Homo sapiens: one gene and its partner. The protein of the gene in region 2 purifies or fractionates together with the protein of the main gene of each other region. This does not show direct contact. Each region holds a gene or a part of one and is shown on either strand. Other genes may lie near its edges.

Region 1 (3,500 bases), on a different chromosome or scaffold from region 2:
CCTTTATAGACTGCATATTACTTTCAAATATATACTACTGCACTTGTAAAAGTACACAGTTGATCTAATCACGCTCCTGCTCAAAATCCTCGACAGGTTCTCTGAGGCTTTCAGGATATTAGATATTAGTGCCTCTGGGGAGCTCCCCAGCCCCCTGTGCTCTCAGAGCCCTTGTACTTGTGCCCACCACAGCTCTTATCACAAGGGGACATGATGTCTCTTTGGCTGCCTCCCTCCCATCGGACTGGGGCAACTTGGGAGCAGGGGCCGGGTGTCCCTCATCAGAGTCCCCATGGACCTGGCTTAGAGAAAGTGGTGGGTGAACGTCTATGGAATGCACGAGCACGAACAAATGAAGAAAAGCAATACACTGCCTTAGAAAGAACCAACACTTAAGAATGAACTGGGAATGCAGAGCACTGTGAGCTCAGACTATTTATTTCATGTCTTTATTTTTCAATTTTTGACTCTGTGCAAAGGTACCAATGATAGGTGCCTGACCTTAGTTTAACTGGAATGTTTTTAAGATTTTTCTTGTGCAAATATTAAGTAGGGAGGCTGTTTTATTAAAGATGCTCATTCAGAATGAACCCACCAACAATGAATGAACTAAAGAACCCCCAAGGTTTTGTTCATAGGCATTCATTAGCTTTTCCCTGCTATACACACATGGAGCTCAGGCTACAACTGGCTGGGCAAGCCCTTTCTTCCCCAAGAGCTCACAAAGAGAGCCATCTGTCCAGTTCCAGGTGGAATCATCTCACGCCTGTTTTCCTGGAGCGAGAATCAATGAGGCTTCCCTGAGCCTCTCCTCCTCCTGGGGTTTCCATGGGAATCCTCCCACGCGTGACTGAGCCAGGGGCCCCCAAGGTGCAAGCTGGGCTGTCAGCCAGCAAGGAGAGCAGCAAATGGGATGAAGGAGGTTTGCTAGGCTGTGACCAGGGCAGCAAGCTCTGCAAGGTCATTTGAAAGAGACATACCACTGAGACAGCAAGGCCACGTGCAGTCCGGGCCAGCCCGGTCACCACAGCTGCCCCTGAGCCCAGAGGCCTGCCCCAGGCACATGTGGAGGTTGTTTGCAGGGCAGCTGGATTCCCTGAGGCCCAGCATGTCTGGGCTGGGTCAAAGCATGAAGGGAGAAGATGGGAAGGGTACCATTTAATGAAGCCCTCTGGGGAAAACGATGATGAAAACATGATAAGGTTTGCGTCCAATCCCTCATTTACCTCCCAAGATGAACCTTCTCCACTTGGTATAACTGGTTGTCTGGAAACAGAATGCCTAAAAGAAAAGCAGAACTATTCATGCCTCTGGCTTGAGCCAGGTCATAATAGGGACCTGCTGGGATTTCTGAAGATCCCTCTGTTAAGCCTACAGTATCTCTGGGGGCATTTTTGAGATACTAAGGAGGAAAGGAGAGAGGATGAGAGGAAGAGAGGAGAAAGGGAGCAGGATCGGGGAGGGAGCTGCTCCAGCCCCAGGAATCTGTACAACTTGCACATTTCATAGAATGCAGATAACAGGTAGATGTCTCCTGAAGGTAGATAACAGGTAGAATGTCTCTGTGGCCAGTAAACCGGGCCAAGGCCCACTCACTTCTGGAGAAAGCAGAGCTCCAGTTCACCATACATGACATTTCACAACATTAAAGGTCAGATGGATGACTTTGGCACTGCTCCAGCGTCTCCCACCACACATACCAGCACATTGAAGTGTAGAGCTTACCACAGCAGCTTTCCTGCCTCCTCCTGGCTCCAATGTCTTCCTGCCTACCCCATCAATGGGGCACCCCCAAGTCCATTGCTTCAACTTCAGTTTCCGCTTTTCACTCTCTCTCTCCATGCATCTTCTCTTATGACCTGCATCTCCAGCCCCGTGCAGACACTCTCAAGCCGGGTCTCCAGTGCTGCCTTCTCTCCTCAGCACAAGACCTACCTACTAGAAGCCCCTGGTCAGCCCTGCCTGGGTGTTGTTTCAAATGACCTTGTAAGGCCAGCTGACCTCTTTCCATCATAAGCCTCCTACCATGGGCACACCCACACTCTCAGCCCTGCGGGACATCTGTGGTCCATGTGCACCTCGGAATCTGCAGGTCCTAGGCTGAGCCTGGCCTCTTCCCTCTCTCACATGCCAGGTTCCTCTGCATGTCACTGTTCCTGCCATGGATCCCGTCTCTTGGTCCCCACCACTCAACCCCGTCAGCTTTCCCCTAGTTCAGAACTTGCCTGGATTACTCCACTGGTCTCTTAGCAGGCTTCCCTGACTCCACTGTTTGCCCGCCAACCCACTCTCCATGCTGCCAACAGGTAAGTTGGACCAAGACACCCACCAATCTCTTCATTCAACCCTCCAGGCAGCTTCTCCAGAGAGAAGCTGCACCTCTTTGCTTGGCACCCAGGGGCCCTCCAGGCTGCTCTTATTTCTTCCACACTGTCTGTCATCACGGCCCACCTCAGACCAGTCATGCCAGACTCTCCTCGTCAGCACATCCTGGGACTCTTCCCATCTTCTCTGACCTGGCTGACATTCTCTCACTCCCCTGCCCCTTCTAGCAGAAGCAGAACTGGGCACCCCTCCGTGGCAGCCCCTCAGCCCACTACATCCTCTTCCCTCCGCCCCATTATGTCCTCTTGCCTACGTCCCACTGCACCCTCTGCCCTCCAACCCACTTTGTCTTCATCTTAGCTGTTGATTCCTGCTGCTATCTCTTGCACCACATCTGCATTTCTTAATGGAGCCAGTGCCCAACCAGCCTTTATCTCCAATACTCGTACACAGCCTTGTACCTGTTACCTCTGGCTGCATTAAGACGTGCTTGTCAGACTGAAGAAGGACTAGCCACTCTATACCTCCTGCATGGTTTGCATTTTTTTTTTTTTTTTGAGACGGAGTCTCGCTCTGTTGCCCAGGCTGGAGTGCAGTGGTGCCATCTCGGCTCACTGCAAGCTCTGCGTCCCAGGTTCATGCCATTCTCCTGCCTCAGCCTCCCCAGCAGCTGGGACTACAGGCGCAAGCCGCCACGCCGGGCTAATTTTTTGTATTTTTAGTAGAGACGGGGTTTCACTGTGTTAGCCAGGATAGTCTCGATCTCCTGACCTTGCGATCCCCCCGCCTCGGCCTCCCAAAGTGCTGGGATTACGGGCATGAACCACCACACGTATACATTTTAAATGGAGTAAGTTCTGAACTCAATGTGTGAAGCAAAAATCACATGCAATCAACACTGCTTAGGAAAGTTCTTCTAAAGTTCCACACAAAGTTCATGATAACTGGTTTGAGGTATACCACCTCTTTCCCAAAGGGCACACCACCCACAACTGTTTTTCCTATAGCCTCAAAACAAATCCCTATTTCTTGAACTGATCAGCAGCAAATAAATTAGTTGGCTTATGTAGGAACCATGTTTTATTAAAAACGTGTTGCTGGTTTAAAAATTTTTTATAGTTGATCTTTTCTTACCACAGATGGTCATGTTCACATAAATCAAGAGTACATACTAT
Region 2 (4,964 bases):
GCTGTGCAGCTGCCTGTGAGCCCAGGGCTCTGGTCAGGGGAAGCGTCTCCCCTTGAGGGTCCCCTGCCGCAGCTCAAGCCCTGAGGTTAAATTAGAAAGTGATTGTGAGCCCGGGCCAGGCCCCGTGGCTCACACCTGTAATCCCAACACTTTGGGAGGCCGAGGCAGGTGGATCATGAGGTCAGGAGTTCAAGACCAGCCTGGCCAACATGGTGAAACCCCGTCTTTACTAAAAAAATACAAAAATTAGCTAGGCATGGTGGTGCACGCCTGTAATCCCAGCTATTCGGGAGGCTGAGGCAGGAGAATCACTTGAACCTGGGAGGCAGAGGTTGCAGTGAGCCAAGATCGCCCCATTGAACTCAAGCCTGGGCAATAGAGTGAGACTCCATCTCAAAAAAGAAAAAAAAGAAAGAAAGTGATTGTGAGGCCGCAGCTGGAACATCGGAGCGTCCATCGCACGTGGCAGACGCCGTGTGAGGGAGCCGGGGTGCACAGGCTGGAGCAGGAGCCCCCCGGTTAACAGAACCTGTCTGTGCTTCTCCGATCACGTGCCGTGCCATCAGCTACATCTCAAAGCAGTTTTCAAAGGTAGCGCCGCGCTGCGTCACCTTAAATGTGTTTTGACGCAGCTTCCGGAAGATTAAAGAGACATCCGTGGGATACATTTTTACATGGTTCGCCTGCCTCAGTCAAAACACGTGGTTGTTAACGTCAGGTCAGGAGCTGCCATCAGGAGCAAAGCTACAGTCAGAACATGCCGCCACCACCGCCGCCTCCAAGCCTGGAGAGCAGACAGGGCATCTCTCTGTCCCCAGATTCCAGCCACCTGGCCTGCATCCTGGGCTGAGGCAAGGACTGAGCATGTGAAGACCCCAGGGACAGGGATGGCCCCTGAGGAGCTCTGGGGGCTCGGCAGAGCACCTCCGTTCATGCTGAAGCCAGAGGTCATCGGGTCCTCCAAGGAGACCTCCTGCCGGGCCAGGAGGGAGCTTCCATCAAAGCTCATCTGGAGCGGCCGCGCCTGCTTTTCTCACAGACACTTCCAAAAGCAGCAGTTCTTCCACGCGATCATGCGTCTGGGCTCAGGGCTTCCAGCACCCTGGGGCTCTGCTGGGCAGGGCCAGCAAAACTCAGGGAGGCAAGGAAAGGTTTTGCCCTAAGAAGTCCCAGATGGGGGCAAGATGTGGTGGGCGGATCCCAGCCCTCAGGGGCCAGTGCAGAGCCCAGCACCCGCAGAACCCCTCCCTGGCTCCCCAGTGGGAGTGAGTCCCCGGTGCGTGGCTGTGACCTCCGTGGCTGTGAGTTTCCACGTGAATGCCACACCCCGCTGTGTGCGTGTGTGCAGGTGTGGGTGTGGCCGTGTGCTCTGCCGTGTCTGTTGAGGTGCCGTGCGCAGTGGCTGTGTGCGTGTGTGCAGCTGCGGGTGTGGGTGTGGCCGTGTGCTTTGCCGTGTCTGTTGAGGTGCCGTACGCAGTGGTGTGGCTGCCCATGGCGTGTGGCAGGGTGTCGGTCAGGAGCCATGGCTGGACTGTGGGTCAGTCCCTGTGCAGCTGTGTTGGGAGATGGCCGGCCGTGTCCGGCTGGGGGTCTGCACATGTGTCCCTGTGTATGTTGCACGTGGTTGTTTGTGTGCGTGTCCTGTGTGGAGCTGTGGGTTGGTCATGGAGTACCAGGAGTGGCCCGTGTGGTGACCTGTGTCTGTTCCACAGGGATACCCCCGGCCAGCGGCACCGGGACCCTCCAGATCTATCTCATTGACATCAACGACAACGCCCCTGAGCTGCTGCCCAAGGAGGCGCAGATCTGCGAGAAGCCCAACCTGAACGCCATCAACATCACGGCGGCCGACGCTGACGTCGACCCCAACATCGGCCCCTACGTCTTCGAGCTGCCCTTTGTCCCGGCGGCCGTGCGGAAGAACTGGACCATCACCCGCCTGAACGGTGAGCCCGCCTTAGGCCACGGGGAGGGTCAGACTAGCCTGGGGTGCAGGCCCCTGGGAGACCCAGCTGGCCTTGGAAGAGTGGGCACCAGAGGTGGGTGACAGTCCTCCAACAGGACTGTCCCACCAAGGCTGGGGACACTGGCCACGCTTCAGCTGCTCAGCCTCCTTCACCTGGCCTTGAGGAGGCCACCAAGTCATTCCCAATTTCTTGCTGCTTTAATGAGGCCAGCCGTGAACATCCTTGCAGCTCTGCCCATGTACATCCATGACAACTTCCTGTGCCGGTTGTCAGTTGACTGGACCCTGACTGATATGTTTCCTTAGAATACTTCCCTGGATGCAGATCTGTGGTATAAAAGGATATCAAAATTCTCAAGTTTTGGCAGTACTGTGAAAATGTGCTCTAAACATGTCTACTTCCATCGGGAGAGTGCCTGTTTGTTTCCTCAAACCCCACCAACACTGAACATTATTGTTTTAAAATAATATTTTATTCTGCCACCTTTAGGCCAAAGTCATTATTTCCATTTGTATATCCTGATTACCAGTGGAAATTTTTTATATATATTTATTGGCCATTTTTGTTTCTTCTGTGAATTGTCTGTTCAATGACTTTGCCTATGTTTTCTTTGGGGAGTTTCTTTTTATTGATTTGGTAAAACTCTTTATATATTCAGGAAATTATTTCTTCATCCTACATGTTGCAATTGCTTTTTGGTTGTGTCTCCAATGTCTTTTTTTTTTTGAGACTGTTGCCCAGGCAGAAGTGCAGTGGCACAATCTCAGCTCTGCAACTCCACCTCCCAGGTTCAAGCAATTCTCCCACCTCAGGCTCCCAAGTAGCTGAGATCACAGGCTTGCACCACACGCCCGGCTAATTTTTGTATTTTTTACTAGAGACAGGGTTTTGCCATGTTGGCCAGGCTGGTCGTGAACTCCTGACTTCAAGTGATCTGCCCACCTCAGCCTCCCAAAGTGCTGGGATTACAAGCGTGAGCCACCACACCCAACCTCCAATGTCTTTTAACTTAATGATGTAGCACAGGTGTATGTATGTATGTGTGGTAACCAGGCAGCCATTTCAGATTTCCATGCCATCGGACTTTTAGTCTTTTCCTTTGGACGTCTTGCTTGGAAGCGAGGGCCGGGCTCTGGTTGAATGTTTACTGTTGCTTTGCACCAGGTGACTATGCCCAACTCAGCTTGCGCATCCTGTACCTGGAGGCCGGGATGTATGACGTCCCCATCATCGTCACAGACTCTGGAAACCCTCCCCTGTCCAACACGTCCATCATCAAAGTCAAGGTGTGCCCATGTGATGACAACGGGGACTGCACCACCATTGGCGCAGTGGCAGCGGCTGGTCTGGGCACCGGTGCCATCGTGGCCATCCTCATCTGCATCCTCATCCTGCTGAGTGAGTGTGGCTGAGCACCAGGGTGGGCAGGGGCATTGTGGGTATGAGTGCCCTGTCCCAGGCATGGTGGGCAGAGGGGGGCCTGGATTTGCCCCTCAGCCCTCATCTCTCAGCCTCATCTGTCAGGAGCCTTTCAGAAATGCAGCTGAACTGGTCCATATGACAATGGGAAATTGGAGCCTCCCGTTACTCTCAAGTCTGGAGGTGCAGGCCGGCCCAGGTGTCTCCCATGGCCTGGCCCCTTTCCACGGCTCCACTCTGCCTCCCAGAGCCCCTGTGTCCTGAAGCTGTTGCCCTCCAGGACCTGTGACGCCTGTGGGCAGCTCCCAGGTGGACTTAGCAGAGGGAAGGTCAGCCCTGCCTGTTAGCGTCCCCATCCAAAGTCCCAGGACACTCTCTGATTGGACTGGCTTGGGTCACATGCACACCTTGGAGCCAATCACCAGCCAAGCAATGGAGTGTTCTCACTGGCTCTGCCCAGATCACATGCTCTAGTAGTTTCTTGAGTTTCCCACAACCACTGTGGGTTCCCAACAGGTCTGAGGGCTGGCGGGGGGGCGGTGCCAGGGGAGGTGCTTGAAAATGACCCCAGAGGTCCCTCTTCCCATCATCCCTCATGGACAGTCACCGTGGTCTGTGATACCCCAGGGATCCCAGTGGGAGGCAGGGCGGGGAAGGGTTGGGCTACCACCTCCCCAGTTCACACCCAAACCACAGGGTCCCCCACCACGTCCAGAACAGGCGGCAGGCCCCTCCTGCAGACCTGGCCTGCGGCTGACTTGAGACCCCAGGGACCAACCTGAGCCCTGTCCAAAGGATGTCTGAGTTATGAGGACTCTGCTTTTTTCCCCATTTCCAGACCTATCACCCCTTGAAAAGCCGGTTTTCATTTCTGAGGCTTGTTTTGAAAGCCGTTCAGTGTCGTGGGCTTCTTTGTATGATCAGGAGTGGAAAGAGCCCCACAGAGGTTGGGAGGTGTCTCTGTAGCAAAGGTGGAGGCATTCTCACCGATGTCCCCTGCTCTGGAAACACCGGGGGCCAGGCCCCAGCCAGAGCACCCTCTGTGGGCAGGGCTGTGAGACCCAATTCAGCTGAGTGCCTGGCCCGTGCAGGAGACCTGGGCCACTCTCGAGGGCAGCCGCAGTGGAGGGCATCCGCAGTGGGGCCGGGGCCACGGTCAACAGCAGATCCGCCTGCTGCCCGGCTTCTGCCCAGTCGTGGGCACCTCAGCCCTGGTGGGGTGCATGGGGGGCACCCGGAGTGGCCTCCCCTCCTCCACACTCCTCCTCTCAACCCTCGCTCATCTTGTCTGCCTGGATGAGCCTGGGATGCCAGCTGTGAGAGTGGAGCTGACCTCTTCAAAGGTTCTTGGCCTTGTGGCTTCCGTCGAGCCAAGACTAGGCCCGGGCTCCAGGCTCCAGGTTCTCACGGAGCTGCACCTGCAGTGCGTGGCTCCTCCCTCCGCCTGCACTTCCCTCTCCACGATCTGGGCCAGGTCAGGAAGCGTCCCCCGGCTGTCACCTCACCCTCTGCAGGCAGGGCGATGCCGCCAATACCCACAGAGCTCCTCCCAAGCCTCCACTCCGCTTCGGAATCCTC

The links.
Region 1: the proteins of CDH4 (region 2) and SPSB4 purify together in Homo sapiens (co-immunoprecipitation; one large-scale study listed by IntAct). This does not show direct contact.

Annotation. Positions count from the first base shown.
Region 1 is NC_000003.12:141,054,347-141,057,846, reverse strand, and holds part of SPSB4 (SPRY domain-containing SOCS box protein 4), read right to left. Parts: intron 1-3,500. UniProt on the Homo sapiens protein: Substrate recognition component of a SCF-like ECS (Elongin BC-CUL2/5-SOCS-box protein) E3 ubiquitin-protein ligase complex which mediates the ubiquitination and subsequent proteasomal degradation of target proteins.
Region 2 is NC_000020.11:61,926,478-61,931,441, forward strand, and holds part of CDH4 (cadherin-4 isoform 1 preproprotein), read left to right. Parts: intron 1-1,712; coding exon 1,713-1,946; intron 1,947-3,131; coding exon 3,132-3,365; intron 3,366-4,964. UniProt on the Homo sapiens protein: Cadherins are calcium-dependent cell adhesion proteins. They preferentially interact with themselves in a homophilic manner in connecting cells; cadherins may thus contribute to the sorting of heterogeneous cell types.